Homo sapiens: one gene and its partners. The protein of the gene in region 2 interacts with the protein of the main gene of each other region in a biochemical or structural test. Each region holds a gene or a part of one and is shown on either strand. Other genes may lie near its edges. The genes, in order: CREBBP, HIF1A, EGLN3 and EP300.

Region 1 (8,853 bases), on a different chromosome or scaffold from region 2:
ATGAATCTCTGATGTTGAAAGACACAATATGCTATTTTAACTTGGACATATTAAATAAAGAAGTTTCCAAAACACCCAACTAACTATATACCGGTAATATAAAGTCCCCACTTATTGTAAGGGTGCCAAGTAAAGGAAGACCTCATGTATGAGAAAGTGTAAAGGCTTCTACATAATACAAGAAAATGCTACTTTAACATCTGAGGCCATCAAATTCTGTGCCTCTCCAGGGCTGCTGCTTCAGTGGGGTGAAAGGTACCGTTTCTCTCTTGCTACCCTCATTCGCAGCACATTCCGTATTTCTGCATCATCTCTGCATAAGCTTCCCAGGCTTCGGCAACTTGTTTGTCATCAGTGGCAGTGACATTCATCACTCTGAGGTGCTGCATGACCTTCGGGAGTGCTGTTTGCAACATCCATGCCCCCAGATGAGCAGCACCCTGGCTGAGCAGCTCCCCAATGTCGGGTGCATTTTTCTCTCAGCTCACTGCCACCCTTCACAGACACATCTAAGTGACACTGGTGGCCCCACAGGCCAGTCTCTACAGACATGCACTGCAGTCCAAGTAGATCCTGTTTCTCAGGCTGCCAAGGGCTCCTCCTCCTTTCAACCCCTCAGCTCCTAGACAGAGGTCCCCTCCCTCAAATTTGATCACATGCACCGGGCACACACCCTGCTCCACTAGGCCCAATTTTCCCCTGGGAGCCTCAGAGACACATCCCGTCACTAAAATAAGATTGAGTTCCTCAAGAATGTTATTCTCAGGTCTGTCCCACCTAACCAAATGCCTTCAGTTTTTGAATGTATTTAATGTAAAAACTCAAGCCATTTATTTGTTTAAAATACATCCCTAAGATCTCTGTCCATCTCATTACTCAATTTCTTAGTGGAGCAGTTACAACAGACAAAGTGTCCCTCGTTTCTTTTGGAGACAGCGTCTCACTCCATTACCCAGGCTGGAGTGCAGTGGCGCGATCTTGGCTCACTGCAACCTCTGCCTCCCGAGTTCAAGCAATTGTCATGCCTCAGCCTCTCAAGTAGCTGGAATTACAGGTGCATGTCACCATGCCTGGCTATGTTTTTGTATTTTGAGTACAGATGGGGTTTCCCCATGTTGGCCAGGCTGGTCTTGAACTCCTGACCTGAAGTTGATCCACCAGCCTCCGCCTCCCAAAGTGCTGGGATTACAGGCATGAGCCATGGCGCCCAGCAGCCCCTTGTTTAATGTGCTTGATAATGAGCCCTTCCTTGGTCCCCCATACTAACAGACCCTTTCACAATAGTGTGATGGTGATGAATGTGTAACACATGACCCAACTTAAGTATGATGTTGACTTTCTACTTTGGATTAAATCGGAGCCATTTAAAGCTGACTTTTGGTCCCACGAAAGAGCCCCTGTGCCTTACAAGGATCAAAATTGTAAAGGAAGGGGGAAAAGGTGGTTAAGTGTGGAAAATCCTTTCTGATCAACTTATTAAGCATCTGATCATCCAATAATGGACACTACTATGGAAAAAGCTAACCTTTGGGCTCCATCTTGGAAACAGCTGGATGTACATATAAGGACATGCCTTTTTGTTAAGTCTTGTGTTACTAATTGTCCCCCTTTTTAAGACAAAATCTACAACAAATTCATTCAACAACAGCAAAGCTACAAAGCCATCCAGGTTACCAGTTTCAGAAGACAAGCTTCAAAGCTGAACTCGCCACGTATGACCTACGTCTCACAGAACTGAAGACTACTCAAACACAGCAAGATTAATGAAGCAACGGAGATCTGTTTTGCAGTACAACGGCATTTAAACTACTGTTTCCAAATTTCTCACTTCAATAAGTTCATTTTATAAGATTAACGTCAAACTCAACTTTTATCAGCTAAAAAGAAAAGCATTAGTGATTTTTATATACCATGAGCATCATTTACTCCTCCCCACTGTTTAACAAATTTTAACTAGATAAGAATCTCCTTATGATTGATCTTTAAAAATCGCTTTTCACTTCTACATTAATATTAAACGTCGCTTATCATAACTTGATTCCAGGAATTGTATTCAAACTTAAGCCACAAAATTCAGGTTTTGTTTCAACAGCAATAGCAGTTTTTTTTAATATGCTAGTGGTCGGTCACAGAACTATTTCCACAAGTTGAACAGCTGTGTCTAGTGCAAATCTGAAGGCAGCGATGTAATTCAATTTGGACTCATTCATTAGAAACTGATTTTCAGATGCTACCACTGCAAGACTACTGGAGAAATGCAAGCTGCGCTGGAGATGGAATTGTTCGCAGCGGCACACAAGTTTTTGCGGCAAAGGAGAGAGCTCTAAAAGAGGAAATACAACTAGTTCATGTTACCATGAACCAGCGCAGTGGGACCCAGAATTACTGAATTAATAGAAAACTAAATACTTCTCTTAAGCAGCTATGATAACTTAAGAAAGTTTCCAGGGAAGCCGTTTAATGAAAGGAAACAAACAAAAAGATGATTTATTCAGTATCCTGCTCCATTTTTTTGAAAAATTGGAATTCCTACATTCCTTAATTCTTTGTACATCTACACTGTGAAAGCAACACAAACTCAAATGGAGATTGCAGCCCAAATGAACTTAAACCTGCTGTTTAACTTTCTTTTGAAGTTATACATGGAAATGAAACACACCACAGCAACTTTCATGACATCTTGCTAACGAAGTTTGGGTTTTGAAAAATGGAATGACTAGTTGACTAAAAACACACACGCGCGCACACACACACACACACACACACACACAAAACAAGGAGTTTTGAAAATAAGCACTAAGCATCTTTCCAAGGAACTCACTCATTCCAAGAAACTTCGGTTCTAACTCGCAAGCTGGCGGCTGCTGTGAGTGTCCTCTGAATGCAGCCTGGTCAATGTGTCGCCAATCCAGAAAACACACTGCCCTACCTTTGGCCGCGATCTTGCTTTCTCTAAGCATCAAAGGTACCCTCCGCTGTCATTCCTCTGGACGGCCACGCGTGTGGACACGGCCGCGGATGGATGCGTAGGACATTACCAAACAAACCCACACGCTGCACTTTACTTCTTCCCTCCTGGAGTGCCACTAGGGTCCCCGCGAGGAGGGCTGATCGGGTGCGGGGAGGCCGAGTGCACCGGGCGTGTGCTGACCAACTCGGGCCCAGTGACAGTCCTGCGACGAACTTCCACCCTCCCGCGCGGGGCGAGGGGAACGGGCTGCGGGGCCTGCTCCGAGCTCCCGGCTCGATCGGTATCCGCGACCACGACCCCCGGACGCTCTCTTTCAGGTGGGGGTGACAGCGCGCCCCGGGCCCCCGCCGCCCCGGACCCCCTCCTCACCTGTGCTGTCATTCGCCGAGAAACCGGGCGAGCTGAGTTTGGCTCTTTTGGGGTTGGGCGGTCCGTCCAGCAAGTTCTCAGCCATTTTCACCTGCTCGCGAAAACAGCCCCGGGCACGGGCGGCCGGGCCGGCGAGGGCCCGGACGGGGGTCGGGGGCCCTGCCGGCTGCGAGGGAGAGGAGCGAGCGCGGGCCGCGAGCGGGCGGGCGGGCGCCGAGGGAGAGGGAGGGCGCAGGCCGGGTGGGGGAGGCGGCGGCCAAATCTCAGCCACAGCAACAGCGCCCCGCAGCGCTCACCGCCCGCCCCCGGCCGCCGCCGCCGCCGCCGGCCGCGGCCCCCTCATCCCCTGCCCGCCTCCCGAGCGCGACACTCCGCGGTGGGGGCGCCCCGGCGGCCCGGCCGCCCCCCCGGGCCCGGCTGGCAGCGACGGCGCCCGGCCGGGCGGCTCAGGCAGTCCCCGAGAACATGGTGCCGCCGCCGCCGCCGCCTCGCTCCCCCCCCGCGCCCCACTTAATGAATTCGCTCGCGGCCCGACGACGAGGGGGCTCCGGGCTCCGCTCCCGGCCCGCGGCCCGCCGCCGCCGCCGCCGTGAGGAAAAACAATGCGCCGAGCGGGGTCGCCGCCGCCGCCGCGGCCCCCCCACCCCCCGTTCCGCCGCCGCCGCCGCCGCTGCCGCCGCCGCCGCCGCCGGGCTCCGGGAGGCCGAGCCGAGAGGCGAGCGGGGCCGCCGGGGCGGGCGCCGAGGGCCGGGCGGAGCGGGCCGGCCGGGCGGAGCGGGGTGCGCGGGCGGTTGTGGGGCCCGGGACCGGCGGGGCCGAGTAGATCGCGCTCGAAGCCCCGGTCGGGTCCGCGACAAGATGGCGGCTGTTGATTCCTCAATTAAAAAAAAAAGAAAGTTTTTTTTCTTCTCTTTCCAGAGCCTGAACGGGGAGGGGGTGGGGGCGGGGCACGCCGGTGCGTCACCCCCCCGCGGCGTCACCACGCACGGCCCCCGCCCCGCCCCCTCCACCTGCGCCGGCCGTGGCGGAAAGAGCCGAGCGTGCTCGGGCCGAAGGGCTGAAGGCGCGGCCGCCAAGCGTAGGGAAGCTGGCGGCCCGGCGCGGGCCAGGCCTGCGGGGCGCCTGGGCTCCGGGCTGAGCCACAGCTTTTGTTCTGATGGCGACCAGGCGTAGAGGGCCGGGGCTCCGGGCCCCAGCGGGCTCCGGGAGCGGCGGCCTGGCCGCGGGCTGGGCTCTCGGGCGCGGATTCGACGCCAGCCCGGGCCCGCCCGTCCCGCTGGGGCGGCGCTGCGTGTTCCCAGCTCCTCGCGTCCCCTTCCCCAGACCCTCCTAGGTGGCGTCGGTCGGGAACGGTCGGGGCGACCCCAGCCCAGGCCGCGCCACTAGCCTTCGCCGCCGGCCAGGGAAGTGGAATGGCCTCTGCAGGTTACAGACCGCCCTTGGGTCCTGCCGACGAGGTGGGCGGATGGGGAAACTGAGGCGGGGGGCGAGCAACTGCTCCAAAGTGGTCGAGGCAGGAAGTGGCAGGGCCGGGATTCGGGTCCCGCCCTACCTCGTGACACTAGGGAGTGAGGGGGCCTCACGCCTGTTCGCATCCCAAGGCGGCAGGGCAGACACCCTCACCTGTGAGAGCGGGGTGGCGAGGGCCGGCCTGGGCGGAGAAGGGCCCGCGCATCGGGGCTTAAGCCTGGACGCTCAGGCCGCACTCCCCGCCCCAGGCAACTTGCCTGGCGCCTCGCAGGTGCCCCAGACAGGGGTGCGGGCCTGGGGAGTCCCCCACGCGAGACCACAGCCCGCGGGACACTTCTACGAATACCCGAGGTGTTCCCATCCCAGTTAGTTATCTGCCCCTCCAAACTTGCCCGGCTTCCTCATAAAGGTATCAGCAGCTCCACTGTTTCCTAAGCCAGAAACCCGTGAGTCAGCGCGGACTCCTCCCTCTCACCCGCCACGCGCCCCTCTACCCACGGTCTTTACCTGGGAGACTGCTCCTCCCGCACTGTCCCGGTGGCTATGGTGGCAGCTACTCACTTAAGTGTTCTTTGCTCTCCACGTTGCTCCCCACGCAGCACCAGAGTTAACATCCCGAAAAGAGAGGGAGAAAATCTGTTTAAAACAACTCCCTGGCCAGGCGCGGTGGCAGATCACCTGAGGTCAGGAGTTCAAGACCAGCCTGGCCAACATGGTGAAACCCCATCTCTACCAAAAATACAAACATTAGCTGGGCGTGGCGGCGTGCGCCTGTAATCCCAGCTACTCGGGAGGCTGAGATGCGAGAATCACTTGAACTGGGGAGGCCAGTAAGCCGGGATCTCGCCATTGCACTCCATCCTGGGCGACAAGAGTGAAACTCCGTCTCAAAAACAAAACAAAACAAAACAAAATCCCAGACATAGAAAAAGAAAACACTACATAGTCTTTCTTTAAAAAAGAACACGTATGAATTCTCTTAAAAACATAGGTGTATGTACATATGGTGACTGTCCTTGAGTGTCAAGATTGAGTGATCGTTCTGCTTTTCTCTGTTTACCTGTACTGCTCAAAATCTTGGGCCGTGATACCGCTCTTGAATCTGTCTCTTCTACTTTACATGGCTCACTTCACCATCATCATCCTACACCCACTTGGCCAGTAGGCAGTTCACATCATTCAGGCTTTTTTTTTTTTTTTTTCAAATGCTGGTCCCTGTGCTGAGAAGACATGCCTGGCAAATTCTAACTCATCCTCCAGAACCCAGTTCAAATGTCACCTACTCCAGGAAGCCCTCCTAGCCCACTCCTCGGCTCCCATATCACTTCTGGGCTCTGTGAGAGAACACATAACACATCCTGCCCCATCTTCCCCGCCTCCACTGCCCCCGAATTAGTTCATGTTTTTACTTATGCATCAAATAGCTCTTGAGAATCCCAAGGGCATTGAGACTGTGCTAATCCCCTTGGCCAAACATAAAGAGATCCCCATATATTCAAGGAGTTAAAATAGCACACCCTGGAAGCCATAAATGGAAGTATTCAAGAAGTCAGTTTGCACAGGAATGGCAAGAAGTGTATCAGTGGCACAGGGCAGGCCACACCCTGTATCTGAATGCTCTGGGTGTCCGTCTCACCAAGGGTCTGTGAGCTCCTTCGGGGCAAAGATGGTGTCTTAGTCACAGAAACAGTGCTCTGCAAGAAGAAGTAGGTTTGTAAAACTGAATGAGTGATGAGCTGTGTCAGGTGCTCTGAGTCCTAGAGGCCTTCAGGCCACTGAAAAGGGTGGGCCCCAGCCTGAGGTGGCTCCAGGCCACTCTTCAAACGGGACAAGGTGTCCAGCCACCTAGAGGTCTTAGGGCCTGCCTTGGGGCAGTGGAGACACCATGCAGCCCCCCAGGGGTCCATTGGTGAGTGGTTTACACAGAAGTGGGCACAGGAGCTTGAGCCATTCCCTGACAGGTTTCCATTTTACAGAGGAAAGCAAGGGAACTCAGTCGCAAGGACTCAGAAGTAAATAACCCGGACATGGCAAGTCTGGGCCTGGAACCCATGTCCTCACTCTCCAAAGACCCTAGTCTTCCTGTCTCACCATGTTCCACCCTCAAAATATACCGGCTCTGCAGTCCCTTTTTCTGTCTCATTGTTCTCACCTGTATCATTTTGATCAATTCTGGTATTCACTGATACCTGTTTTTTCTTTCCTTTCGATTTCTTCTCCCTTCAGTCTGACTCAAAGAACCCTGAGCTCAGACACTGATGGGGGAATAGCAAGGAGGGAAGCGTGGCTCCTGCCTGCACTCACTTAGCTGGGGATCACCTTCAACAAGTGAGTGCCTTAGGGATACCAGGCCGCTCTGCCATGCCTCCCATGGATAGCACTTCCTACAATCCTGGAAGGAAAAATTGTCCTCATTTCACAGATGAAGAAATAAGGCACAAAGGAGGACAAGCCACCCAGCCACGAAGGGGCTTCACTCCGGTGCACACCTAAGGCTTCCTGCTCTTTCCACAAACCTCACCCTCTCCAGTCTCAGATACCACATTAAAAAACAATCAAAGGACTGGGCATGATGGCTCATGCCTGTAATCCCGGCACTTTAGGAGGCCGAGGTGGAAGGATCTCTAGAGCCCAGGAGTTTGAGACCAGCCTGGGCAACAGTGAGACCCTCATCTCTACAACAAAATGTTAAAAAGTGAACTGGGCGTGGTGGCATGCACCTGTAGTCCCAGCTGCCTGGGAGACCAAGGCAATAGGATCACTGGAGCTCAGGAGGTTGAGGCTGCAGTGAGCTATGATCAAACCACTGCACTCCAGTCTGGGCAACAGTGAGATACTGTCTAAAAAAAAAGAAAAGAAAAGAAAAGAAAGAGAAAGAAATGGAATTGGAATTGTTGGCTGGATGCGGCGGCTCACGCCTGTAATCCTAGCACTTTGGGAGGCTAAGGTGAGTGGATCACTTGAGGTCAGGAGTTCGAGACCAGCCTGGCCAATAAGGTGAAACCCTATCTCTACTAAAAGTACAAATAAATGGCTGGGCATGGTGGGGGGGCACCTGTAATCCCAGCTACTTGGGAGGCTGAGGCAGAATTGCTTGAACCCGGGAGGCGGAGGTTGCAGTGAGCCAAGATCGCACTCCAGCCTGGGCAACAAGAATGAAACTTCGTCTCACAAAAAAAAAAAAAAAAAAAAAAAGAAATGGAATTGTTGCAATTTGATATTGATTGTCCCTTTCTAGGCTTAAATAGATTAAAAGATAGCATCAGGTTTGGACTTTGCCTTCAAGCGATGCAGAACAGCATTGGGGAGAAAAACACAAACAGGACACACATTGAAAAGATAAGCAGAGAATCCAAGTCAGAATAGCACAAAATCATAATAACTGATCCCCCAGGGGTGGGAGTCCCGGGGTTGGGGGGCAGAGGCCTGGGGGAGTAGTCCCAGGAAGGCAGGATTCCAGCCAGTTCCTGGTGGACAGAAGGCAGAATGTGGTCTGGTGGTGTGGAGGGATCCAGACAGAGCTAGGTTCAAGTCCCAAACCTACTGCTTTTTCTTAGCTGTTTTGAAAACAAATACCTCGGCCAGGTGTGGTGGCTCACACCTGTAATCCCAGCACTTTAGGAGGCCAAGGCGGGCAGATCACCTGAGGTTGGGAGTTCGAGACCTGCCTGACCAACATGGAGAAACTCCATCTCTACTAAAAATACAAAATTAGCCGGCCTTGGAGGTGCATGCCTGTAATCCCAGCTACTCGGGAGGCTGAGGCAGGATAATTGCCTGAACCCAGGAGGCGGAGGTTGTGGTGAGCCAAGATTGCACCATTGCACTCTAGCCTCGGTAACAGGAGCAAAACTCCATCTCAAAAAAACAAAAAAAGAAAAAAAAAAACAAATACCTCCTCACCTGCTGAGACAGTTGAGGTGCGGTGGAGATGAGATGGAGGGTGCACAGGGTCCCTGGCACACCAAGGCACCATATAGCTGCTATTTGGGGCAGTGGGAAGCAGGCGCTCAAGGGTGAGAGGCCCCTCTCCTCTCTCTGCC
Region 2 (8,720 bases):
CAGCAAGAACAAGTGTGCGTTTAGTAAAACTTTGCCTTAAACACGTAAGTGCATGAGTAGAGTTCAAAGATGACCTAAGGAAGAATGTGGCAACTGAATTTTTTTCCAGTTCTCTGAAACAATTTTTTAAAAGTCAGCTTTTAATACCTTCATGAATGTCACAAACATTCAAGAGTGAAGAATCACTGTTCATGGTTAAGAGCTGTGTATCACTGACTTTCCCCAAATTACCTACTCTATCACTCTTCTTTCTCTGCATTGCTTCCTTCTCAGCTTGTAAATCCTTTTCTTTCTGTTTCCCTTATTTATATGCTCTTAGATGGTAACAGATCTAAGACTAGAACCTAAGAAGGTCAGTGACCCTAAACTTTGTGTGTATGTAGAAGAATGTGTCCTTGAAATAATTATTTGCTTAACTTTAATAGAAGATGCATAAATAATAATAAAGTACTTACATAACAGGAAAAAACACATGTATTGAAATAAGGGTGTACAATAGAAAGCATACCCTAAAGACTTCTTCTATTAAATATTTAGCTCTAAACCTTGACCATGATTAAGATTCTGGAAATGACAAAGGAGCAGCTCTCCTAAAGCAAGAGTCTCTGTTTTCCAACTATACTAATCCATCCTATCCAATATTACCAAATAAATTTTCCAAAGTGACCTTCTGATCCTGTTTCTTTGTCTTTAAAAAGGGTTAGGTAACACTATTAGTGTGTGGCAGATCTCAGATTCCACCTGAGAATCTCCACCCTTTTCCCCATTTTAATATGAAGCCCCATTTTTAATATGGCCTATGCCTTTCCACAAATCAGATGCTCAATATATAATTTTTAAATTAAAAGATTCAAGAAATTTGGGACTATTTTTTAAGAATAGAAGGAAGAAACATGATAGCTACCCTCAGATATTTGAAAAGGATATCAAACAAAAGGCGGATTTGGTAATTTATACAACTCCAGAGAGTAATAAATAGGAATTACAACATGGCAGTGCTTTGTTTAATAGAGTTAAAGCAGTGTTGAAGTTACACTCTATGAGAATTTTTAAAACCGTGTTTTCATTTTGGTGGCATTGTAAAAAAAGAAAAGGCATATTCTACATCATCTAAATGATCTCTCCATAGTTCTGTATACTTGCCTCAAGCCTTCTGTGTTTGAGGCTGCATTTGTTTATGATCAAACTGTTACCAAATGACCACTAAAAGGAACAAGGTTACATTTTTTAATGCAGTATACATACTCAGACTGAGGTCACTGGGTACATCTCAAAAATTCAGAGGATTATTTTGCTCCAAAAGAGATCTGAACATTAATCCTGTGTTAAGAAACACAGGAATAAAAAAGAAAATAAGTAGATTGTCTTGTGAGAATGTTTTGTGTATGTATGTCTGAAAATTCTAAAAGCAGACTGGCCAATGCGCCTGTGGTGGTTGACATTAAATAACAAAACTTAAACCCAAAAGTCTGTACTTCGCAAGAACCTCAAACTTTAAAGTGCAATGAACTGAAAATTTAAAAATGGAATATGCTATGAATGAATGAATGAACATAAAAAATGGAATGTTCAACTGTGGCCTAAGCCATCAACGATTCAATGCTGTACTCAATAAATTAGCTGCACAAATACCTGTTGAATAAATGAATGCACAACAATCTGTTACAGGACATAGTATAATAGTTAGGTGCCTGAGTCATGGTTAAGCGTTGAAGAAATTTTTTGAACCACTGAAATAAGTCAACTTAAATTATTCAAGAAAATATCCCTTCATCCATTCACAGTGAAGGCTTTGACTACTGGTTTGACACTATAACCATTTAAATATTTTAACTATGTTAGCTACAAAGGCAGGCAATATCCAACTTTCCTCTGCTAACAAGTTAAAAGACATTTAATGAGATTCTGGACACAAAGGACATGGAAATGTAGGCTTTCTTAATTTCCCCCTCCTTTAACATCCCAAATAAATAGCTTTGAGAACATTTTTCTTCCTTTAGTATTACCACTATGGAAAATTATTTTAGAATAACATGTCTATACATAAACCAGTATTTAGTCTGCAAAGGCCAGATGTTTATGGAAAAAAAACCAAGTAAAGGAAAAGCATCAGTAACTATTCTGCCACTATTATTTACTCACTGGTGGTGAATAGCCTTCGTCAGATTATCACAAAGAAGGCTTGAGCGATTCTAAACAATGTTGAAAACAACTTAACCAATACTATAATATTATGAATATATGGATAGTTTCTACTTAATTAAGCCCTTACTTTGTGCCAAGAGCTGTTCTGAGTGTTTCATATGAGTTGATGTATCATTTCATTCTCATAACAATCCTATAAGGCAATTATTCTTATCATCCCAATAAAGCAATTTGTGTAAGATCACACAGTAGAGCTAAACGATCTAGAAAAATGTGTGATCTTAACACATATTTAGTAGAGAAAAGGATCATCTTTTTCTTGAGATGAAAACCCTAACCCATAGAAGAAATACTCAACTTCCCAAAAGTCATGACAAGAACAGCTTGCAGAATGACTACACTTGGTAGAAAACTATAGAATATGAATTCAAATGACTTGCAACAAAAACTCATGGCCCATTAATTACTGGTCAAGAGTTCTGTGTATAGTAAGATAATATTCTACAAGAAGACCATCAAATATGCTACAATAAGACATATTTGACTCATGTAATCAGGGAACTCCATTCACATGGCCAAGTAGGGCAAAACGTTTTCTTCTAGGAAACTGATATATAGACACTAGAAGAGAGAGGGAGTTTTTTTTACTTTTTTTTTTTTTATATTACAAACTGTATGGATGCAGGTATGGGGATGCTAGCCGTCCTCTTCCACACCATACAGACAGCCTGTCAGTGGCAGAGTAAGGCCAGCATGCAAATAGAGCAAAGGTATACAAGCCAAGTAATATCAAGACAAAAGTCAGGGATTATTACACTCTGAGATCATTTGAGACTCTAGATTTGTCTCTTAAACCAAAATTAGATTGTGTTAGCCAATGACTACATTTTCCCCTCTTAAACTAGATTGAGTTGTATTTTGCTACTTGCAATAAGAAGAATCCTAATATACTTATCAAATTGCCAGTGTTCCAAATTTAAAACTTTAATGATGATAAAGTTCAAGAAAATGACACTCTAAAATACAACTAGGTCAAACTTTCTAGAAGATAAACAGGCAATTACATTGAAAGCTTTAAAATGGATACTTTTTGACCCTGTAATTCTACTTCTTCTAATTTATTATTAAGAAAGAACCATGAGGCCGGGCATGGTGGCTCACGCCTGTAATCTCAGCACTTTTCTCACTTTTTTGAGAATAGGTTTGATAAAAAGGCAGTAATGGTAAAACAGACTATATCTGAAATCTGGAGAGTATTAAGAGCCATATATTATGTTAAGTACCCAACATTAATATTATCTAATTTAACCATCACCACAAGCCTACAAAATTCTGATACTCTTCCTCACTATTTAGATGGGAAAAAATGTAGATGTAAATTTTTTAAAAGCAGGTTAAAAACAGTACTCAGTCCCTAATCCTACAGTTATTAACATACAGATGTAACACAGAATTGAGAAATAGTAGACAATGGTCTCTACATAGTGAAAAAGCAGGTGATTTTTATTTCTTTGTGCACCTGTGTAGTTTTTAAATTTTTTCCTCCAAAATTTTAAAATTTCATTAACATTAAAATAGTTTAGCCAGATCAAATGATTGTAAACACACTCAGGGAACTCCTATTTAAATGGTATTCTATTATAAAGCAAAGAGAATAATCAATGCTCTTCTATTATAAAGCAAAGAAAATAAACCCCAACCTTACTATAAAGTAATAGAATTTAAATATCTATATCAAAAAAAGTCAAAGGAGATTCTTTAACTTTCTTCTTACCAATCAGTGAATCTCAGACAGGGAACTAAAGAATTAAAACATTCTTTTTAATTTTTTTTTTTTTTTTTTGGAGACAGCATCTCACACTGTCATCAGGCTGGAGTGCAGTGGCGCGATCTTGGCTCACTGCAACCTCTGCTTCCCAGGTTCAAGCGATTCTCCTGCCTCAGCCTCCGAGTAGCTGGGATTACAGGCATGTGCCACCACATCCTGCTATTTTTTTTTTTTTTTTTTTGTATTTTTAGTAGAGACGGGGTTTCTCCAAGTTGGTCAGGCTTGTCTTGAACTCCTGACCTCAGGTGATTCACCTGCCCCGGCCTCCCAAAATGGTGGGATTACAGGCAGGAGCCACCGTGCCGGGCCGACAATATTTCTAAAGAAACCTTTTAAAAACCTGCATTCTCTTTGTTCATCCAATTATTCAATCATTGTCTCATTTGTTAATTCAAATACTTATTAAGAGCTCACTGTGTACACCACGTACCAGTATTCACACCACAGATTTCTTTTTTAATTTTTTTGAAACACAGTCTTGCTCTGTCACCCAGGCTGGAGTGCAATGGGGCGATCTTGGCTCACCGCAACCTCCGCCTCCCAGGTTCAAGCAATTCTCCTGCCTCAGCCTCCTAAGTAGCTGGGATTACAGGCACCCGCCACCACGCCTGGCTAATTTTGGTATTTTTAGTAGAGATGGGGTTTCACCATGTTGGCCAGGCTGGTCTCGAACTCCTGACCTCAGGTGATCCACCCACCTCGGCATCCCAAAGTACTGGGATTACAAGCATGAGCCACCGCGCCCAGCCCACAAATTTCAAATTCAGCCTACTTGGGATTTGGTCCACTGAAACATATCCAGTTTTATAATGGAAAGGGGGAGGGTAGAAATCATTTTAAAGAAATTTGCTTAGCATCTGAATTTACAAGACTCTTAAGAACAGAAACGTATCCCAACCCTCAAAGACTTCAACTTTCGCCTTTAAACCTTATTTTTAACCATAGTATTTTTCAGCTGGAAAAACAAATCCTCCCAAACTACTTGGAAAAAAAAAAGGGGGAAACACGGGGGACCTGTCCTTAATGAGTGAAAATTGCAATATTAAATACTAGACACTTTTAAATTAATTTGCCTAAATATATTGTGACTTTTCAAACAAGTGAAGAACTACATACAGTAAACTATGTTCCATCACTACATTTTCCCATTTACAAGATAATAAATTTTCAAAATCATATGTTGAAATAATCTTTATGGTTAAAACTGTAACCGGTTAAGGTGAAATTTTAAAATAAAGAAACACTCATAAATAACAGTTGAGATCACCAGAACAGCTAAAAGCTAACATCTTGGGAACAGTTTTTAATAAAAATACATTATTTCAATTATTGTTTTAAATCTTAGAGAACAAATTTCCTAATTAAATTGGGCTTTATCAACAATAGAACAGGTGTACACTATTTTACCCAAAAAGTGTTTCTGTGAAAAAGTACTGGCATAACAAATCTAAGTCACTAGAAAAATTGAATTCTCCTTTTAGAGGTACTTACTCTCCTTTCAGTTAAAGCTTCCACTGGCAAACTGTAGTTAGCTTTCAGCTGGTTAATTATCCACAAACAAGCCCTTAAAAACAATCACTTCAACATATTAGATGGCTACCACTTTGCCACATTAGATGGCTAAGAAAGAAAGAGAAGAGAAGGAAGGAAAGAAAGAAAACAAGTGTTTAGAAGGATGTGGAGAAATAGGAACCCTTGTGCACTGTTGGTGGGAATGTAAACTGGTGCAACTGCTATAGAAAACAATATGGTGGTTCCTTGAAAATTAAAAAGGGTTACCATATGATCCAGCATCCCTCTTCTGGATATGTATCCAAAAAAAGTGAAAGCTTCAAAGAGAGATTTGCAGACTCATGTTCAGAGCAGCACAATAACCAAGATGTGGAAGCAACCCAAGTGTCCGTTGCTGGATGAATGGAGAAACAAAATATGGAACATATAATGGAATATTGCTCAGACTCAAAAAGGAAGGAAATTCTGACACATGCTACAACATGGATGAACCTTGAGGACATTACACAAAGTGAAATAAGCCCATCACAAAAATATTAAAACCCTATAATTCTATTTATATGAGGCATCTAGAGTAGTTAAATTTGCAGAAACAGAAAGTAAAATGGTGGTTGCCAGAGGCTGAGGAGAGGGGGAAATTGGGAGTTGTTTAATGGGTAAGATTTCAGCTTTGCAAGATGAAAAAGTTCTGGAAGTTAGTGGCACAATGTGAATATACTTAACACTACTGAACAGTACTTAGAAATGGTTAAGATGGTAAATTTTAGGTTAATGTTTTTGAACTACGATTTTAAAAAACAATCAAAAGCTATAAGAAAAAAGCCATGAGGTAATCACATTTTTGTTTTTATGAAACAAAAATTTTAAATTTTGTTTTAAAAATTCAGGTTTTAGATACTAGATTTCTCTAAAGGGATCATGTCTGGCAAATAAATAAGGGTTTATAAATTTCTACTGCAGAAAACATGAACATTAATACTCAACGCATATACAAAACAGTTAATTCTTGATGTGTCAAGAGACCAAGAGATATAATTATTTTTAAAATTCCAAAGCCTATAGTTAATTTAAACAATCTGACCATATTTTTACCAAAAATACTGAGCAACAAGAAGCTTGGCTTGTCTTAGTTTCAAATTCTCTTTCTAACCTTCCAGAGTTAAGCAGAAAACACATACACACACTGGGTAAAATCCACCCACTGGATAACTAGTCACAAAGTTTAAAAAATCAATTTCTTGATTGGAAACTCATCCAACATCACATTTAAATTTAGATTTTTTTATCCTGGTTAAGAAACAGACTTATGTTAATCTTAGATAAAGGGATACAGTATTTTAAGTATCTAAATTTAAAAAATTATATACTAAGAGAAGGCATCTATGAACACACAATTTAACCCAAATCTTTAACATCCATGCACATCAATTTTTATTTCACCACCAAACATAATAAACTGAGTTCTTCAGAAAAAAAAAAAAAATCAGTCAAGAGACTAAATAATCCCCCTCAGCTTTCTATACACCACTCTTGACATACAAGAATAGAATGTAACCACAAAATCTAAACCCTGAGCCGTGACACCATTAGAGTCACAGACAATGGCGTTAAAAGTAAAGACAATGGAAGTTAACAGGTAGAAAAGTTGACATTCTCCAAACTGCACAAGGTGCTCTGCAGTGGACCGTAGGAATGAACTCCAATACTTTCTCAGTCTAAAATAACTCGATAGTTCAGTAAATACACACGTGTGGAAGAGTGCATAGACTTCATACAAATTGAGCCACAAAACAGACCAGTAAGACAAGCTTGAAGTCTTGCCTTCAGATGGAACCCAATGGTCTTAACTCTGGAGAAACTCATAAGCAAAGGACAGTTTTTCTACCACGTAGCTGCTTTACTGAGAATATTTTATCAACTCATTATCTTTTACAAAGGTTAATTTTTATAAAATTGTCTAAACTTTGGCATCAAGACGAAAAATGTTTTAACTTACTGCCAGTACTAAGAATGCAGTGTCTTGCACATATCTTGCTTAAATGAACAGTAAGACTAGAATACTGTGTATGTTTGACTCTAGAGTCCAGAGTAAACTCAGTATTCTATTTGGGGAGAAAACACAGGGGTGAGCAATTGTGAAGCAGGAGGCCTCCACTAGAGTAGAGAGCAGATCAGATGCTCAAGAAAAATAACTGATACTAGGTGCCAATATAACCCAAGGATGTACTCTTTTGCCCATTGTAACAGGAAAAAAACGCTTTTCAAGCTCTGGATCCAATGTTAGTCTTTTCACTTTCAGGAGATAGAAAAGATGCATGAAGACACAGAAAAGAAACTAAAGGAAACAGCTGGAAGGACTAGCAAAAAAGAGTTTTAAGAGTTGTGGAAGTTTAAACAAGAATTTTAACAGGTAACATCTATTTTCAAGTACACAGTGTCATCAAGACTCCTGCAATGGGCTAAGTGCTTCACAAGCATTATCTCATTTAACCTTTACAATAACTGCTCAGATGGCTGCTATTCTTATCATCATTTCAAAAGGAGGAAAGAGGCTCAGAGGCATTCAGTAACTTGCTCAAGCTCACAAGTGAAGGGCTGGGACCCTTAACTCAGAGGTATCTGCCTCTAGATCCTATGCTCTTAACCACCATATGCTGCTTCCTCAAACAAAAGGACAATCAAAATAGAATCATAAGGAGAAAAGTTTGCTAATAAATGAGAGAGCTTCTTGACTTTTAATGGCCAAAGTTAATGAAGGAAATTAAGGAATATCTATTCTCAGAAATTTTACTTTAATGATTCAGTAATTATTTGTTTTGGAAAACTCTGAAGGAGTCTGGCCTGAAGCCTGAAACAGAATCATTACTCTCTTGACATTCCCTTAAAAATCTAAAAATCAAAATGCACGTGCTATTAAATAAGTTCAGCCCCTATAACTAGGAACAACATGAAATGTCCTGCGTTAAATCTACAGTATCATAACCATACCCATTTTCTATTCTGATTTCTTCCAATTCTTCAGGTTTTGAGTTTCCTAGACCTTCTTTTAAAAAGACAAATTTGTTTTCCAAACTCCGACATTGGGAGCTCATTTAAAATGAAAAAAAAAATTGCTTGAAGAAAATCTCCGTCCCTCAACCTCTCAGTTATCTTTCAAAAAACTGTAAATTAGTTAGAAAAGGTCATCTATTATAAACAGCATCTAAAAGTGCTGAGTAACCACCACTTATTAAGT
Region 3 (5,068 bases), about 28 Mb from region 2:
CTCGGTAGGACGAGGCAAAGAACTGCTTGAACTCGGGAATCAGAGGTTACAGTCAGCAAAGACGGCGCCACTGCACTCCAGCCTGCGTGACAGAGCAAGACTCTGTGTCAAAAAAGAAAAGTTTATTTCTATTCTGTTCTAACAATACTTTCTAACCACCTTACTAACCAACTCTTCATGCCATTCAAAAGATTCAAGACTGTAGCTAAGTCAATGTTGTATCGTTTTAAAAAATAACTTTACTAAGAATATCCCTTCTGCTTGTCCTCGTAGTCGATCAAATATATAAGTACCTGACATATCCAAACTCCTATCTTATATAAACTGCTGGCCCAGCATGGCATTTCCCATCATTGCTTTCTAAAACACAGGAAATTTCAGTACTGAATGGCCAAAAGAAATTAGGACGACCCAGCCTCTAAAAAACCTGAGTTAAAGAAAAACAAAATCATGTCTGAATGGATAATTCATGATTCTGACAGTCCAGCATTTAATGGTATTAACTACTCTACTAAGGATCTATCTAATGCACTTAGGTAAGACTTTTTATTTCCATGAAATTGGATCTTTGGTTCAAAATTTAATCTCCTACCAAGAACTCTGGACTATATAAGTGACATAATGGTGAGGTAGGCTCTTAATATTTCATTGCCGGGAATATAAATGAAATTGATCAGATTATTTGCCAAATAATGTTTCTTTAGCAGGGCTAACTCCTCCCCTAAATGGGCTGTCAAAGAGAGGAGCAAAAAACAGACTCCTAGCATTAAAGTTGTATTTTCCAGCTTAATTTTCCAGGACTCAAATTGAGTCATTAAAAAAAAAAAAAAAAAAAAATCAGTGCACATAAAAAAAGTGGTTTGTTAGCTTATAGGACCTTTGTCTGGAAGGAATAAACAAAGCCTTGGAGGTCAGATCTTTTGGCATATTGACTAAAATGAAAAATACAAGACATGCTTTTGGAACTATATGATCCTCCTTCAGAATATTGTCACTATCATTCTTATGACATTAGAAATCATGAAAAATATATAACTACAATTTTACAGAATACAAAATTCCTAATAAACTTCGTCCTTTCTTTCCTATTGAAATTTTTCAAGATTGTTCGAAAGGGGAATTCACTCTGTCCTATCTGAGACTAATGTTATTTTACTAATGTTGTTTCTAGGATATGGAAGGGCAAAATATAATTTGTTCAATTTTCAGATTCATAGTGGTCAGTGAATGACCTATTCATGGGTATACAAATACGAAGCAACACTATGACCAAAGCGTTCTAAAACTCTTAGCGTAAATGTGTAAGTCAACAATGTTAAAAAGATGTGTGTAAAAATTCTAGCAAGCCCTTCCTGCCAAAGATGGAATATATTAATCAAACCATTAGAATGCTAATGTAGGAGACTGAGTTTATTCAACAAGTATTTACTGAGCCCTTACTATGTTCCCGGCACTATTTTAGGTGCTGAGAGTATGTTGCATTGGTTAAAAATATACAAAATTCCTGTCTTCATTGTGCTTACACTCCAGAGAAAGGATACAAGACAATAAACATAATAAGTGAATAAATTACATAGTAATTTAGAAGGTGATAACTATTACCGTACAACAAAATAGAGCAGTCGTTGAGAATTAATGGTGACATGTCTTATCTGGAAATTTTCCAAAACCAGAAGAGGAAAAAGTAAACTTCTATCTTGGAAGACTATATATATATATATCCGTACATAACAAAGGAAAATATTTCTGGCTCTTTAATGTTCATGGGATTTTCAAGCAAGAAATTAAAGGGATTTTTAAAACATGAAAGTAATACTGAAAACTAGGAAAAGTAGCTTTTGCAAAATACGTGCTCAATACCAAGTTATTGAGGCAGTGCGATCTGTGCTTACTGCAGGAGTAGAAGCTTCCACAGTTCTAGCAAATTCCATGATTCTGGTCATACTGCCAACCACAGTGGATCTAGAGAGCCAAGTGAGCTGAAGAAAGACTGCTAGGGACAGACGAGAACTCAAATAGCTTTGAGATTTTTTTATTTCCACTTCCTTTTTTAAAATACATCACCTTGCTTTTTTTGTGTTAAAGGGTGAGCTCATTAAAAAGGAAAACTAAAAAAAAAAAAAAAAAAAAAACAGGAACACCCACATTTCCAACTCCACCTCCCCTCTCAAATTGTTCAAGATGCACACATGTTTATTGTATATCAGTAGACCTAGCTCTTTCCACAGTTATCAGTGGTTAACACAAAACTACCAGGGATATATTTTTCCTTTCATTTAAATTTAAATTCCATTCCAACAAAGCAACCAAAACAACTAATGTCTAGTTTTTTAGCTTCTGGGGAATTAGGTTCCCAGGTAAGAACTGAAAATGGAGAAAAAATTGTGTTGCCATCTTTATTCAGAAAGTCATTATTTTCAGCAAAATGGGGCTGAGGCAGAAAATCCAGGTTGCAGGACTGGGAAAAAAGGAGTGTCTGCCCCATGGGACACTTATAAATTGTTCACTATGACAGCAGCCCTTTCTAGAGGTATTAATGTCATTAGGTTGTGATAATTCTCCAGAAACCCCAACAGCCCTGGATTAAGAACATCTGGAAATTGTTCAGATGACACAAATTTCTCTGTTTCCTGCTGTTAAGGCTTCCGTGATGCCTCTCTGTGGCATCTACCACCTCCATTTTTTTCTTTTCAAACCTCCTCCTTTCAAATCAGGAAGTATACATAAAGTGCAAGTAAGGTTCATTCCCTCGCTGTGCTCCTAGGCTCTTCTCTTGATAGTATTACCGAATCTATCAGGTAAACCGCTGGCCGAGTAGGATGTCTGCAGGAATTTCTGGAGTTAGCAAGTAACTTCATCTGGCAAAGAGAGTATCTGAAGATCAACACAGTCTTGGCAAGAAAACATGAAGTACCACACACAAGACAGGGATGTGAAGGATGCAAGAAGTAGCAGGGAGATTGTTGTCACTGAAGAGGCCATCTTTGGATCTCAAAGAATTTAAGAGAATTCAGGAACCGTTACTAAAATGAACAAGGCCAGCAGATTTCAGAGCACGGTCAGTCTTCAGTGAGGGCAGATTCAGTTTTCCCTGGGTTGGGGACAGAAAGGAGAATAAAGAGGGTATGGAGTCAGCTCTGATGAGTTTTATGTCACAAATGTCACCAAAAAGCCTCCAGTAAACACTTCCCATCTTATATAAGCCTCCTAATAGAGCTCTGCCAAAGGATTCTCTCTTGACTTTGCAATGGGATCTTTCCCATATGCCTCACAGACTGTGGAGGAACTTTGGGTTTACATCCAGCATTGGCACCTCTTGGGCTAATGCTGAGCATAAGTTGTATGAAGTGTAGCCTCACTCACATATCAGAGTTAAGCAGTGTAGGCCATCTGGAAGAGAAAACAAACTGAGATTTCCTGGGTGCAATTTGGAGACCACTTTGGTATTTGAGAGGTATACAGTCCAAATGGGTTATGGGCTAGGCAATATTATATATGTTTCCTTACTGCAGGATCTCTTAGCGCCTTAATTTAATATGCTAGTGAGCAATGTGACTCTTTTTAAGACAGGCATACAGCATGCAACATTTCCCACATTTTTGGGACCAGGAATTTACCAAATTGGCAGGATTTGTGTTTTAATGCAACGTATTTTGGGAAATGCTGCCTTCTAATACTGGTTGGAAGGGATAGGAGTAGTGCTGTTATATTCAGTTTATATTACATGAGCCCTGCTGTTATACTGAGAGTCACAGTCTCACCCAATATAATAAATTTTGCCATCATAACTGGGTTCCATTATATTTCCTTTGCAATATGCCAAAAATCATGGGCAAAATTTAATGTTACATTTGACTGGTTAACATTAATAGGAAAAAGTTAACTATTTCCCATCTATCATAAACCATCATACATTCAGTGGGCATTCTCAGGGGAAGCCCCTTGCATTGTTTCTGATTTTTCTAAGAGCCCTAAGGCCAAGGTTTCAGGATAAAACCCATCAAGATGTCATTATATATAAAGCTAAGCCGTAACAGATTGAACAGAACATGTTTAAAACTACATAAAATTGAATAAAAGTCAAGGATTAACTTGATCAAAAGTCACAGAAAATTATCAAACACATACTAGTTAAATTCCTGAATTTCTTTTTGGCTTCTGCCCTTTCTTCAGCATCAAAGTACCAGACAGTCATAGCATATCTGTGAAAGATAAGCAGATATAAGGAAAGAGATTTAATGGTACTACTAGAAACACAAATGTCCTATAAATCTCACATTAAAAGTTTTAAAGTTTTCTCTATTATTAGAAGTCTACCCTGATTTATTTATTTATTTATTTATTTATTTATTTATTTATTTTTTGAGATGGAGTCTTGCTCTGTTGCCAGGCAGAGGCGTGATCTCGGCTCACTGCAACCTCCACTTCCCAGGTTCAAGCGATTCTCCTGCCTCAGCTTCCCAAGTAGCTGGGACTACAGGTGCACGCTACCACACCCAGCTAATTTTTAAATTTTTAGTAGAGATGGGGTTTCACCATGTTGGCCAGGATGGTCTCGATCTCTTGACCTGCCCACCTCGGCCTCCCAAAGTGCTGGGATTGCAGGTGTGAGCCACCATGCCCGGCCTGTCTACGCTGATTTTAATTTAAAATTAACTTCTCTGGTTTTAATTCTATTTCAATGTAATAAAATGCATAAGGAATTCCAGGTATGTGCCAGAAATTATCTTGGGCATTAGGAATTCAAATGACCCTGTGATCAGATCTTCCTCTGCGATCTCAGGCTCCAAGTAGGGGAGACAGGTGATTTTGCAATAATGCAACAGGTAAACATAGCCTCTACAGAAAGGACTAGAAGGGAGTCATTCTGCTAAAGACTGGGAGACCCAAGTTGGTGGCGAGAACATAGAGAAGAGATGACATTTGAGTGAAGCTTTGAAAAACGACTTATGTAAATCACAGTATGTTTAAAACTCTTGGCTTGCTTTCTTTAGTTTTGGACATTGAGGCAAAATTGCAATTGAATAATAATAATGCCCCAGAGCTTTCTACTGCATCCCCACTAATT
Region 4 (8,618 bases), on a different chromosome or scaffold from region 2:
TAATCAAAAGGAGGAAGAAGGATAAATATACCAGGGAGAGAAGAACTGCTACTCATTACCTAAATACAGGAATCACACCTCTTCCCACTTACAAAACAAAAAACCACAGACCCCCACCCCCCACCCCAAAAGCCCACTATAGATACAACTGCAGAAAACAATAATCTAAAACAACCATTGCCAGGCGTGGTGGCTCATACCTATAATCCTAGCACTTTGGAAGGCTGAGAGGGTGGATCATCTGAGGTCAGGAGATCGAGACCAGCCTGGCCAACATGCTGAAACCCTGTCTCTACTAAAAATACAAAAATAAGCAAGGCATGGTGGCACACACCTGTAATCCCAACTATTTGGAAGGCTGAGGCAGGAGAATCGCTTGAACCCGGGAGGCAGAGGTTGCAGTGAGCTAAGATTGCGCCACTGCACTCCAGCCTGAGTGACAGAGTGAGACCCTGTCTCAACAAAGAAAGAAAAAAAACTGTTTATTGAAAAGCCTGCACAAGCAGTTAAATACTGACTACAGCCATCAAGTGATACATTTCAAAAGGAAATGATGTGTGCAGGTACCTGATTAAAGATGGCTTGGTGCAAAGATAAACACTTTAGACTACTGTTTTAGTAAACATGAGAAAAGTTTCATGTCCAGTTACTTGCTTTTTTAAACATAAGGTACTTATAACAACTTGAGTCCCACCTTTTCTAGGTTTCAAATGAGTAAAGAGCTAGATTTTTACTCACTGCAAAATCAAAGCATTAGGTCTACAAAGCATTAGAAGCACGCCTAACTTTTTGTAAATAAAAGAAAAAGTTTAAGTGACTTTTCAAAGCTAGAAATGCATCTGCAACACACAAGTTCAGCAAAAACCAACACCATGGATTTGGTATTAACAAACAAATAAAGGGTATTAATATCATCCAGCCTTGTTATTATTGTATCAGAGCCCCAAATAAACACCCAATGCAAGCTATACTTGTAGCTGATCACTGAAAACAGGAGACAAATTGTGGTTAAGATAGATTAGTGAATGAGATTTATGTGATTACAGCCATTGATTGGGCAGGAGAAAATTAGGCAGAGGTGCCTCGTTTATTAGACTCAAATCATCCTCTGTCACATACAAGGCTGGGTTGGGAAAAGTAAGGTACAGAGAGCTATGTGAGGTTTTCCTTTTAATTTGCTTAATATGAGGCAAAGAAAAGACTCCAGAATCCTGTTTTCATATATTCTAATAACAACTACTTAGGGATAGGCCTCATCTAAAAAGGAAATATTTCCAAAAAGCTGTCTAGCGAGTTTCAGTTAAAAGTTTAAAAATCTTCTCAGTTTTGCCTCAGGCTGTGGTGATCAACAAACACACAGTAGAAAGAGAAGTGGGGCCTGGGATATAGACCCATCTAGGCCAACAACTCACAAAGTTGCTTAACTTCTCAAGCTCTTGGGAGGAACCCAGGTAACTGATGCAAGGCTACTCTGATAGAAAATTTTATTGTTCTGCAAACAAAGGCAGAAGGCAAAAAACAGAACTTGTGCTATACAGCTGTCTTCAAGCAAGATACACATGAACCATGACTGTATGTGTGCTGGCCCATCCGCATGCACTCCCTGGACATGTGGACACATGGACCATGGTCCACACCTGGCCAAGCTTACCTGTTCTGGTAACTGTAATAAGTGGCATCACGAGGTATTGTGCACAACTGTTTGCCGTAGCAACACAGTGTCTGTGGAGAGAACTCCAACTGCAAAAGAAACCATTTGTTAAAAAGCACAGAGGCCTTAAGGACAAGCTAGAACAGTAAGAATGGCAAGTCAGAAACAGAAGTCAGTGGTGTCTTAGTTCTCATTTATGTTAATAATGATGGGCTAATTCAGTTCCTGAAAATCATTCTCAGTTTACTACCACATTATTTCAAAACGCTGAGGTAGGCTTAGCAGTCATATCCTTCCATCACTTTACCAAAGAACCTAACAGGAATAGCTGGGCAGGGTGGCACATGCCTGCAGTGCTCAGAAGCTGAGGTGGGAAGACTGCGTGAGCCCAAGAGTTCCAGACCAGCTTAGGCAACACAGCAAGACCATAGTCTTATTTTAAAAACAAAAAACCAATAATGTGAATTGGTATGTACAGGAAAGCCAGCACATGCTGAGGAATCTGCACCCACAGGTGAATATAAGAATGCCCCTACTCCAGATGAGTTAACAGTCTGTTGATTATTTAATTAGTCAACTTTTCCATACAATTGCCACTCTGAAAAAATGCCTTTAAAGAAAGCCCATTTCATATTAAGAGATATTACTACTGTGGCACACAGTAAGAGAAAGACTGTGTTGGCTGGGAGAGGTGGCTCATGACTGTAATTCCAGCACTTTGGGAGGCCGAGGCAGGAGGACTGCTTGAGCCCAGGAGTTCAAGACTAGCCTGAGCAACATCATGAGACCCTGTTTCTACAAAACAAATTTAAAAAATCAGCCAGGCATGGTGGCGTACGGCTGTAGTCCCAGCTGCTCAGGAGGCTGAGGTGGGAGAATTGCTTGAGCCCAGGAGGTTGAAGCTGCAGTGAGCTATGACCTCACCACTGCACTCCAGCCTGGGAGAATAAGACCCTGTCAAAAAGGAAAAAAAAAAAAAAAAAAAAAAGCCATGTCAAAGCCAGAAGCAGGATATTCTCTTATCCCAGTCACCACTATATTATTCTAGGTATCCCAGAAAAGTTAAAGTCAAATCTGAAACACATTTCTTACCTTTCTGCCACAACAGTATCCAAGGCTTTGCATCACTGGGTCAATTTCTTGTTCAAAGACCTCAGAGAGCTTGGAGCAGTATTTGTATACCCGTGATGTTTTCCGGTTATATAACCAGGCATTATTGAACATAAGCCAAATATCATCGACATACTGCCAGGGCTCCTGATACTGTCCAGTGTCTAACTTCCTCTTAATGGTAGAAAGATCCATGGGGCTCTTCACAATATCAAAGTAATCCTAGAAAGACAAGTGACATCAAACATTACTCAAGTCTCACTATTTTTACGGGAGATGGAGTATCATCCATTATCATTGTTAATTTTCCAGGCAGTGTTTTAGTTTCTGGCCTGTCTATATTCCCCAAGAGGTGACTGATGTCCATCACTTCTTTAAATATTAGTTTACAGAGATATTAAACTACTCAAAGGGCAGAGAAACAGAACTACTATGGACTTTCTAGACATCAGGCTGATATTCTACTGAAGCAACTTCAGGTTCTTTATGAAAGTACATGTGAGATCAGTAAAGTCAAAGACATTTAAAATTTTAGTACTAGAAGGGGTGTACAATGAGGAAACTAAGCCCACAGAACTTAAAATGTTCCATCTGAAATCACAGCAAGATACAAGAGAGGAAAAGTCCTAAAAGGCTTTTGCCCCTGGAAGCACTTGACCTTTGAGATGGAGTCTCTGTCAACATGTTGCCCAGGCTGGAGTGCAGTGGTGCAATCTTGGCTCAGTGCAACCTCTGCCTCCCAGGGTCGTTCAAACTATTCACCTGCCTCAGCCTCCCAAGTAGCCAGGATTACAGGCGTGCACCACCACGCCCAGTTACTTTTTATATTTTTAGTAGAGATGGGGTTTCACCATGTTGGTGAGGCTGGTCTCCAACTCCTGAACTCAAGTGATCTGCCTGCCTTGGCCTCCAAAAGTGTTGGGATTACAGGCGTTAGCCACCGTGCCCGGCCAAGTAACAGTTTAAAACCACCAAATGAAATCTGCCAGCAGCCTAGTATATGGAGGCAACTTTAAAAACAAAGCTAACCACGGTCCTTTTTTCTGCTATGACCTATTGCTCTTGAAACAACGAAAGTGGCCGGGTGCGGTGGCTCACGCCTGTAATCTGGGCATTCTGGGAGGCCGAGGTGGGTGGATCATCTGAGGTTGGGAGTTTGAGACCAGCCTGACCAACATACAGAAACCCCATCTCTACTAAAAATACAAAATTAGCCGGGCATGGTGGCACATGCCTGTAATCCCAGCTACTCGGGAGGCTGAGAGGTAGGAGAACTGCTTGAACCCGGGAGGGGGAGGTTGAGGTGAACTGAGATTGCGCCATTGCACTCTAGCCTGGGCAACAAGAGTGAAACTCCATCTCAAAAAAACAAAAAACAAATAACAACAACAAAAAAGTAAACAAACTATATAACCCAGGAATTCCACTCCTAGGTAAATACCAAGGAGAAATAAAAACTTAAATCCACACAATGTTCACTACAGTCCTATCTTAATAGTCAAAACGTGTAAACAACCTAAATGTCTATCAACTCATCAACAGGTAAAGAAAAATAATGGAATATTATTGGGCTATAAATAGGTATGTGCTACTGATTCATGCTACAACATGGATGAACCTTGAAAACATTATGCTAAGGAACGTCCTGGCACAAAGAATCACATACTGTATGTTCCAATTTAATGAAACATGTAGAACAGACAAATCCAGAGACAGAATGCAGTCTGGTGATGTCTAGGATTGGGGTGCTATGGGAGAAAATAGTGAGTGACTGTTAATGGTAAAGGATTTTTTTCAGATGATGAAAATGAAAGTGTCATGCACAACTCTGTGAATATACTAAAACTCCCTGAATTAGGCCAGGCCCAGTGGCTCACACCTGTAATTCCAGCACTCTGGGAGGCTGAGATGGGCCTATTGCTTGAGTCCAGGCGTTCAAGACCAGCCTGGGCAACATGGCGAAACCCCGTCTCTACTAAAAAATACAAAAAACTAGCCAGGTGAGGTGGCACATGAATGTAGTTATCCCAGCTACTCAGGATGCTGAGGTGGGAGAATCACCTGAGCCCGGGAGGTGGAGACAGTAGTGAGCCACGATCGTGCCACTGCACTCCAGCCTAGGCAACCAGAATAAGACCCTGTCTCAGGGGGAAAAAAAAAAAATCACTGAATTACAAATTTGAAATGAGTGGCTATACTGTTTGGAATGTGAATTATCTCTCAATAAAGCTGTTATCAAATTAAAAAATAAAATCAAAAGTACCACCAAATACTTACAGGGATTCCTAAAAGCTGAGGGTCCACAGGTTGACGAAAGGGAAGGGATTCTGGATCCTGACGGTAAAGTGCCTCCAAAGTTGGCATCAGTGCCTGTCGTAGTTCTTCTGGTTTGAAAACTTAAAAAAAAAAAGTGCATTTGAAATTAGTTACCAATTAAGCAGAAGAACTTTAAAAAATCATTCAGCCTGAAGCTCTAAAAGCATCTCAAGAATCAATAACAAAATTAACCACTCTGTCCCCATGGAAATATCACTACAGGCTCAATCACTGATTCTAGATTCTAAGCCCCGCTTTGTTTCAGACAGCTCCTAAAAAACATTGTGTCTTATCACCTTAAAACACTCTTCACCCTCAGCTTAACTTTTCAGTCACAAAGTCAGTGAAGACAGACTCGGTCAATTAGAAGCAGAATCCAAAGGCTTCTAAAAATTTATGAAGAGACTTTGCCAAATAAGAGTCCATGGGACCAGGCACGGTGGAGGCTGAGGTGGGCAGATCACTTTGAGGTCAGAAGTTTCAGCCTGGCCAACATGGTGAAACCTCGTCTCTACTAAAAATATAAAAAATTAGTCGGACATGGTGGCATGCTAGTCTCAGCTACTCAGGAGGCTTGAGGCAAGAGAACTGCTTGAACTCGGGAGGCAGATGTTGCAGTGAGCCGAGATGGCGCCACTGCACTCCAGCCTAGGCAACAGAATGAGGCCCCATCTCAAAAAAAAAAAAAAAAAAAAAAAGAGTGCACAAGATACTCGTGTTAAGAGGGAGATGCAGTCAAGCAAGAACAGAAAAGTCTTTCTTCATGACATCAGTATTTAACAAGTCAGAAACTAGACTAGATCAGGTATTGTCTTATACTACAAGGAGTCAGGGGCACAGAAGAGAAGACTCCTTCGTTCAAATGCTTGGTATTTTAGAGCCAAAGAAAAAGAGACATGTACTATTTTAATGACAAATGTTAGGTTTAAGTTTAAAAGAAGAGAGAACAAAAATGGTATTGCTAAAATAATAGACTTAGTTGATCAAATTAAGTTCAAATGTGTTCTCAATGATATTTCCCAAAAAGTCCGGAAAAATTTGTTGGTGTGTCCCAAATGGAATCAAACAGTTCTTTGAGAAGCCAGTGATTTAAAAAGCTTTCAATTTCAGCAAGGGCCTTATTTTTTCTTAATTGGCAAAAAAAATTTCATCATCGGTAGAGTATATTTGTTACTTCAGATAATTTTCACCTCTGGGGGGTTGCCATGGAGTGGGGGGAAACCAGACTACGAAGATGCTTGTCACTCATATTTAGCTGTGCTAAAAATAAGGACTATTTGAATAAACTTGTGAAATTAGACATTTTATTTTATTTATTTGTTTGAGACAATTACTCTCTGTCACTCAGGCTGGAGTGCAGTGGCGCCATCTTGGCTCACTGCAACCTCCTTCCATCTCCCGGGTTCAAGTGATTCTTCTGCCTCAGCCTCCCAAGTAGATGGGACTACGGGTGAGAGCCACCACACCCGGCTAACTTTTGTACTTTTAGTAGAGACAGAGTTTCACCATATTGGCCAGGCTGGTCTTGAACTCCTGACCTCAAGTGATCTGCCCGCTCGGCCTCCCAAAGCGGTGGGATTACAGGCATGAGGGAACACACATTTTAAAGAGAGATTGCCAATAGTAAGACTGGGTTTGTTACAGCCCATATTAAAACACCTCAATATATACAAGTCTTATTTTTAAAATGAAAATAATTTTTTAATCCCAACATTTTACAACACATTGTATTAATGGAACACTTTTCAATATATATCATCTGTAAGAGCCAGCAGACTCACTCCTCAGGTATGTCCTACCTGGTGCCTTTTGCAGATCACTAGAGCCACAAAAGTTCTAGTCCTAAAATAGTCAATTAACACTTGTTGGAATGGCTGGATTTGAGCACTCTGCCTCAGACTGCCTGGGTCTGCTTCCTGGCCCAGGCAGTAGGGTCAGCTGAGTAACCTGTGGAAAGTTACTTAACTTTGCTAAGCTTCAGGCCAATAACCTCAGAGCTGTTGTGAAATTATTAAATGAGGCCGGGTGTGGTAGCTCATGCCTGTAATCCCAGCACTTTGGGAGCTCGAAGCGGGTGGATCACCAGGTCAAGAGATCGAGACCATCCTGGCCAACACGGTGAAATCCTGTCTCTACTAAAAATACAAAAATTAGACGGGCATGGTGGCATGCGCATGCAGTCCCAGATACTCGGGAGGCTGAGGCAGGAGAATCGCTTGAACCTGGGAGGTGGAGGTTGCAGTGAGCTCAGATCCCGCCACTGCACTCCAGCCTGAACAACAAAAGTGAGAATCCGATTCCAAACAAAAAAGAAAAGAAAAAGAAAGAAAGAAATTATTAAATGAGACAATGTGGATACTTAGCACACAGCAGGTGAATGACAAATGCTATTACTATTGCTATTCTTTCCTGCATTTTAGTCAAGGCTATTTACAAACATTTCTCTCTCCTGAAAAATGAGACAATTTTTAGGGTGTACTAACACAGGGAACCCTGAAGAAATGAGGGGAATGACTTAACTCATTGGTTGCTGCAAGTGAATATTAAAAAAAAAAAAAAGAAAGAAAAATTATTAGTAACAATGAAGAGACCAGGCCCAGGGCTTCCAGGTTAATGAAATCACAATAATGGCAACTTCTGAGGCCCAAGAGGCATGACCGCAATTCTGCCCTGGGTCTTTGGTTTCTTCAGCTACCTCCAGAACGAATGGCTTCAGAGACTCACTCTTTTTCTTTGACTGTCCTGGAGCCGGAGATGACTGGGTAGCTGAAGTACTTGGCTGGTCTTCCTCCTCTTTTATTTCAGTTTTTAACTCAGTGCTTCTCTCTTCTGTTTCGGTAGATTCCATTTTACAGTCTTCCACTTTAGACTAAAAGAAAACGTAAGAATTTTTAGTATTCCAAAGATATCTAGTTGGGAATCAGTAATCTGAACACCCTTTCTCATGCAAAATCTATGCCATGAGATCTAATTATCAAAATATTTTTCTGCAATATTTTTTAAAACTTGGGTTCCTATACTGAGGTCCTAACCAAATCAAACAGTAATTGCCCTACTCTCACCTCTGAAATATCCTCCGGCTGAGTATCTGCTGGTTCTGGTTGATCCACTTCCATTTTGGCCTCCATCTTCACTTCCTGGGAAGGCTGCTTCTCAGCAATGGCCTGAGAATTCACTTCTGTGCTACTAGTAGATGGAGGATTTGATACCTGTCCTTCAATGCTTACAGCTGGCTGGGAAAGCTGGGCAGAAAAAAAAGGGAAGTAGGTGAGACACACGCAGAGTCTGCCAACGATACAATCAGAATGTAAGGTAAGCAACAGGATAGCAGAATTAGCCACCTATTTCTTGGCTTATATTTATTCATGGTGCTTTCATTTGCTCTGCCCATTTCACCTCCCTTAATTATGCTTAAGAACAGGAGAATTAAGACTTGTAAATACTGGTTGGCTGATTGTACATCAAAGAACCAGCAACTATTTCATTGATAACTATCATTATCTGGCAGTGTGTGGGGATTTCAAAGATGTCTGCTTCAGAG

What was found.
Region 1: the proteins of HIF1A (region 2) and CREBBP form a complex in vitro, tested with the Homo sapiens proteins (6 studies listed by BioGRID and IntAct, with this or other methods).
Region 3: the proteins of HIF1A (region 2) and EGLN3 form a complex in vitro, tested with the Homo sapiens proteins (5 studies listed by BioGRID, with this or other methods).
Region 4: the proteins of HIF1A (region 2) and EP300 form a complex in vitro, tested with the Homo sapiens proteins (25 studies listed by BioGRID and IntAct, with this or other methods).

Annotation. Positions count from the first base shown.
Region 1 is NC_000016.10:3,876,492-3,885,344, forward strand, and holds the start of CREBBP (CREB-binding protein), read right to left. Parts: upstream 4,223-8,853; 5' UTR 3,426-4,222; coding exon 3,341-3,425; intron 1-3,340. UniProt on the Homo sapiens protein: Acetylates histones, giving a specific tag for transcriptional activation. Mediates acetylation of histone H3 at 'Lys-18' and 'Lys-27' (H3K18ac and H3K27ac, respectively).
Region 2 is NC_000014.9:61,697,708-61,706,427, reverse strand, and holds part of HIF1A (hypoxia-inducible factor 1-alpha), read right to left. Parts: intron 8,717-8,720; exon of another isoform or gene 8,578-8,716; coding exon of another isoform or gene 8,474-8,577; intron 1-8,473.
Region 3 is NC_000014.9:33,922,832-33,927,899, forward strand, and holds the end of EGLN3 (prolyl hydroxylase EGLN3), read right to left. Parts: intron 4,203-5,068; coding exon 4,129-4,202; intron 3,092-4,128; coding exon 3,060-3,091; 3' UTR 1,396-3,059; downstream 1-1,395. UniProt on the Homo sapiens protein: Prolyl hydroxylase that mediates hydroxylation of proline residues in target proteins, such as PKM, TELO2, ATF4 and HIF1A. Target proteins are preferentially recognized via a LXXLAP motif.
Region 4 is NC_000022.11:41,151,534-41,160,151, reverse strand, and holds part of EP300 (histone acetyltransferase p300), read right to left. Parts: intron 8,320-8,618; coding exon 8,140-8,319; intron 7,947-8,139; coding exon 7,802-7,946; intron 5,158-7,801; coding exon 5,039-5,157; intron 2,984-5,038; coding exon 2,744-2,983; intron 1,741-2,743; coding exon 1,652-1,740; intron 1-1,651. UniProt on the Homo sapiens protein: Functions as a histone acetyltransferase and regulates transcription via chromatin remodeling. Acetylates all four core histones in nucleosomes. Histone acetylation gives an epigenetic tag for transcriptional activation.